Linked DNA regions of Homo sapiens: region 1 is linked to region 2. The links come from fine-mapping of genetic effects on gene expression. A gene starts in region 2. The other region holds a variant in brackets. All regions are shown on one strand. Distances are between the middles of the regions. Region 1 overlaps TRAPPC3L (trafficking protein particle complex subunit 3L). Region 2 holds the start of RWDD1 (RWD domain containing 1).

Region 1 (2,500 bases), 52 kb after region 2:
TTGCTTAGCTAGAACCAATTTAAATTCATAAAAAAAAAAATGCTCACTGTAAAACTTCTGAAAGTTCATCCCAGCCCAAGAAAACCCATGGTATATTGGCAAATACATCATATTAGGATGTCTCTTTTTTCCTGGAGAGCCAGTTTTTAAATTTTTATCATACTCTACTGTTTGAAATCCAGATAACATTTCCAATATTTCAACCTCACAGCCCCTCACCACCTTCACTGACTCCCCATATAAAATCAGTAGTTCTTCACCATGACTGCACATTATAATCACTTAGAAAGCTTTTAAAAGAAATCTCAATGTTCAGGCCCTAACCCAGAAAAGTTACATCAGGTTCTCAGGAAATGGGTCCAGACATTGTGATTGTCAAAGGCCCCCAGGTGATTCCAATTTGCAGCCAACATCGAGAGCTACTGACAAACACAGATAGATGCTTTCCATCCAACCTCTCATGCCAACCTCTTAGCTTTTTCTTAATGATTTTGGGATCTAAAATCAGAGAAGTCCAAGCACTACCCACAAAGGAAATTAATATCCTCTGGCTTGTACAACAGGGGATATTTAAAATAAGAGAGAAAAATGAGAGGGAAATATTAGAAAATTAAGATAATTACCTTAGAGAATTCGGAACCACCAAAGTCTAAATAGAATAATATAGTTAATAGTTGAAGTACTTGAAATATATCATGTGAGAAGCGGTAGCAGTTTTCTGCTACCCAGTGACTTCTGGATTGCTTTAACCAGTTTTTAGAGTAAATCAGTGGATCATCAGGCTTTGAAACAACTAATTTGAATCAATAATGTCATCGTTTTCTCATTAAATGTATACATTTTTAGTGATGCTTTAAAGGTCTCAAGTAGAAAACCATACAAAAATTTTAAAAGTTGCTTTGGACACATATATTTTACAATACATTACTTTAAGGTATAATGCATAGAATTATGTAGTGATTTGTCTGCCATGCCTTATTTTTGTAATCTTTGTTACATACCTTTTTTTCTCCCACTTTATATTTGATATGAATAAGCTGAATGTATCCTAAAGCTGAATTAAGTGGTTGAGCCTGAAAAAAGGAAGGAACTGCACAGGAAAAACAAAAGAATCATATATATATGTGTACACAATTTATTCATGGGATAAATTGGACAGAATCAGCATTTTGTGCCATGAAATTTTTCCTTGAGTATATTCCTTGTATGGGAAAGCATCACATTCTTTTCAAGAGCATTCTCCAATCCTTTTCTCTTATGTAATAGGGTAGTGGTGGTAGGGAGAAGACCAGATCTTCAGGGAAAATTAGAAGTATTAAAAGGGAGTCAGCCTGGGCTTGGGTTGGCTCTAGCCCAAGGACCCTTCCATATGCTTCAAGTCTAGACCTAGAAGAGACTGTTATGGCA[A/G]ACATTAGTATGACCATTGGGTGCCCTCTCTAGATATTCAAATCCAGGGTGCCAATGTCCCAGTTCGGCAGTGTAACCTCCTCTGGAGGATCACCCTTGGGCCACTGGAGACTCCTCACCTGGAGTTTTCTGGGGAATGCTCTCTCTTGGCTGCAATGGAAGCCCCAGAGCACACTTGGGATCAGGAGAAATCTGACATTCCAGAGCCCCCCCATAGGTCAAGCTGAGGCTGAAGTCCCAGAATTTCCTCTGGGATTGATTGAGACTCCACTTGTAACTGCATTCTTTCTTGTGTTTATCCTGCTAATATGTTTCTCCTAAGAGGATTTCCTTTTAATAAATCATGTATACACAGCTCCCTGTGTCAGGCGCAGCCTCTAGGGAGCACATCCAAAGACAACTAATGGTCCACACATTTTAAAGTCTCTGCTATCAAAGCCAGTTCATCCTGCTGCCTCTAGATACCCATTCCCTCAAGATACTCAAGAGCAGACACCAATTTGCTCTCCCTATCTTACTCCACTGCCTCCAGGACTATTTGTGGGACAGATAAGTTTTCTTGGACTTGTTTTATTCCTGAGTAAAGGACTGTTAAGGAATTTAGGAGTCAGGATGAGAACCTGTTAAGTGGCTTCTTCCAGAGGAGGAGGATGAGCTCTTCTGCTACTTACTAAGCTGCAGCAACAAGTACCCAGGCTGCTGGCTTCTTGCCAGTCAGCTTGGGTTTTCTTGAATGAGGCAGTCATTGTCATGAGCGTAAGTTTTTTGAGTGCAGAAAGTCCCTGGACTTGAGGGTGGCAGGAATATCCCCCAGATATGACTCCTCAATCCTCAGCTCCTTACAGCTAACCTACTTCTGTAGAACTTCTGTTTCAGCCTCTCACACACTGCAAAAGAGGCATCGGCATCGGCCAGTTCCTATATGTCTTTTTCCAGCTCAGAAGACACTTAAGGGCAGACAAACTTTAAGTCAAGAAAGATTAAGAAGGAGAACTCTTTGCTGAATTTTCTCTCCCTTTATTCTGAAAACTCTACCCCCTCACATCCCTAATCCCTGTTCTGTCCCTGCCACATACACACACAGACGTCTGAC
Region 2 (3,028 bases):
CAGATGTACTGCTGGTGAGAGAGAACATGAACAGGACTGGAGCTATACAGGGATAGCTGAGAGACATCTGCCTGTTGGCAAAGCAGAACAAAATTTGCTACCATTGCAAGCAGTGGTCAAAAGGTGAAGCCAAGAAAACTAAGCTAAACAATGAAAGGGAGAGGGGTTGGAATTTATAAGTTAAAGTAATATACCTTACACTATAAATTCTGACTATCAACGATAGGCAACACTCAAAGGAAAGGATGGGGAATGTAAATGCACACACCTAGGTTCTACTCACTCATATTGGCTTTATTTGACCGCTTCTCAAATCTCAGAGGAGCCATATTGATATAGTTATGTAGCATTTTTATAATCATCCGAAGCATGGCTTAATAGAGAAATCTCGTCCTCTAAATTATACCTAATGAACTTCTCATTATAATATTTTACATTAGCCCAACCTACCAAGTAATCTTCTGCTCTCTCAATCTCAGCTGGAGCTGAATCCCAAGTCCCATATGTCTGGAAAGTGAAAGAACAGGCAAGCGTTCTGGACGTATAACTCAGTACCAGCCCTGCCGCTAACTCGCTGGCGGACAGTACAGAGCAAGCCACTTAGCTTTCCTGAACCCCCATGACCTTGGCTTGGAGCAGGAGCCCCAGGATAGATGATGTTTAATCTCCCTTCCAATCTAACAACCTATGAATTTATAGCAGAACGGAAATTTGGGCCACATTATCCATTAGGCATTCTGCTGAATGCCAGATTTTTTTTTTTTTCATAAGAAAAGAAACCCGACAGACTTCAGGGACTATGCTACTCTCAAAACCGATTTGAGTAACTGAAAACAGCACTCTGAATCCTATAAACTAAAACAGCATCGTATGAAAAACAGTTTCTACCTTAATAAAGCTAAAAATGTGAAAACTAACATTCTTGCGGCTGTGGAAAAACGAATCGCACTTGGAGTATTTTTTCTCTTAATGTATTATAAATCTCAGGTTGCTGTAGGTTACACAGAAACCAAAGTAATCCCGACTCAATTTTCAGGCCTGACACCCTCCAACATCACCCGGACTTTTAGATTTCCGGGAACAAGCAGAGAAGGAGAAAAAGTCACTGGGTTGCTGGTAAGTGACTGAAGAACTTGAGGAGTGGAGGGCAAGGTGGCCGCGCGGCCTCAAGGTCCCCTTCTCCACCCCAACCTATGAGGCCCAGAGCTGCGGCAGCTCCTGCCCGTCCTACTCCACCTCGGGGCGGCTACAGGCTTGCGGCCGCGGGAGTCACCTGTGAAGGAGTCAGGGTAGATGGACTCCAGGGCCTCCAGCTCGTTGCGCTGCTCCTCGCCGTAATCTGTCATCGTGGCCCTTGCTCTTGCCCATAGATCGCCCAGACACCTAGGCGGCGCGCAGCAGCCCAGACAGCTGCCGCGCCGGGAGAGCGGGCGGCGGCCAGGCGGGCGCAGGCGCAGAGTCCCCGGCTGGAAGGCCCAGGGCCCAAAGCCAGACCCGGCTTGCTTAACTGCAGCTCCGCGCCGGCCTCCGCCTGCTCCCTACTTCCACGTTCGACTCGTTCTGCCTGGCCAGGGGGCACTGATTTGCTGCCTGTCCCACACTCGCTCGGGACTTGCTGGGACGGTGCGCGCGGTCTGGCATTCGCCAAGGACACCTACAGCCGGCTCCTGGGCTTTGCAGGGCCTGAGCCTTAGAAGCCTCTCAGCGCTGCATCCTCGCTCGATGAGTCTGGGCTGAAAGGCCGGCATCGCGCGTCAGTGAAGGATAGTGTCGCTGGTGGCCGGGCTGGGGCGAGGGGCGTCCGATGCCTTCACCTTTTCTGGTTTCCGGTTTGACGCCGTGGCGTAGGTGCTGCGGGCTTGCAACCTAGTGTGGACTGGTGGGGCTCAGGAGATTTCTGAGCTTCTCGAACTCCGTATTGCTTGGCGTCCTACGGGAGTTGGACGAGAGGCTGGGACCAGTGTAGATTCCACTGGGCAGGGGAGCAAAAGCTCTGCACTGCCTTGAATGAGTATGGAAGGGTCGGTCTAACTGCTTAATAAGTCGGGGTGGATCCAGGAGGGAGAAATAGACCGGAGGTCCGGCTTCTCGGTTCAGATCTTTAGGCTTAACTTCTGATTTTGTGAAATGAACGCAGCTGGACGTATGATAGATCTCAAGATGTCTGTGATTGTGTATTTGTGAATTGATGAAAGGAATGTAGATCTCAGTAATAACAATTATCATATGCAATGTAAAAATTGCAGTACCCCGAGAAATGTTGAGAACCTTTAATTTGGTAATACGACTTCCAAGAATAAACTTGAGCAAGTAGCATGCATCTGTGATCTCCAAAATCATTGCAGCAATTACAAAGAAAATTTTCAAAGAACCATGATGGCAAAAGCTAAGAAAATGGCTAAATAAACATGGTTAGCTTTATGAAAATGATATTAAAAACTATGGTAACAATAATAAAGGATCCCATGTTCCTTTATTATATTATTGCGCTAAGTCGAAAAATGGAAAATTTTAAGAAAATACTCAAAAGCTGTTGCCCACTTTTCTGTATTTTTCTTTGTTTTGATTTCTCTGTATTAAAGCTGGTTTCACTGGTATAGTGGGAGGAACACTTTTTAAATGAAAGATTCCTAATGATGAAGCCCCTGAAGCACCAGAAGGCACCTTGATCTTTTATTGAGGAGTGCTGCTTACCTATAGCAGAGGAACACTTTGATACTGATTCCGTGTTTACGGTATTAAGGGTTGATTTCAGGCGTTCTTTTAAACTTTAATGAAAAAGTGGAGTCTCCTAACTATGATGACAATCAAATAAAATACATAAAGTAACTTTGCAAGTATAAGTTGCTCATTTTTTTTGGATCGCCTCAGTTCAGAGGAATTATACTGATTTATTATGAGGAAAGAGCTGCCAGAGGAAACAGCTAGTGCATTAAGTCCTAAGTGGGGAGTCAAGGATGATTTTTGGCTGGAAGAACTGGAAAGACGAAGTTCTGTTGACCAAAATAAGTGAGGAAGACAGAATCAA

Evidence for each region.
Region 1: its variant is fine-mapped to the expression of RWDD1 in whole blood (INTERVAL, PIP 0.94).

Annotation. Positions count from the first base shown.
Region 1 is chr6:116,518,455-116,520,954 of GRCh38, reverse strand. The region is part of intron 3 of TRAPPC3L (trafficking protein particle complex subunit 3L); the gene reads left to right. CALHM5 (calcium homeostasis modulator family member 5) reads right to left here. Exons shown (of 2, transcript NM_153711.5): 2 at 1-2,500. Among named protein-coding and RNA genes, the nearest start is that of CALHM5, 8.1 kb to the right of the region's middle. The variant A/G (reference allele first, on the strand shown) is at 1,408.
Region 2 is chr6:116,569,901-116,572,928 of GRCh38, reverse strand. RWDD1 (RWD domain containing 1) reads right to left here and starts at 1,425. Exons shown (of 7, transcript NM_015952.4): 1 at 1,274-1,425. The coding sequence starts at 1,346. RefSeq lists enhancers at 1,171-1,270, 1,491-1,820, 1,851-2,030 and a silencer at 1,371-1,450.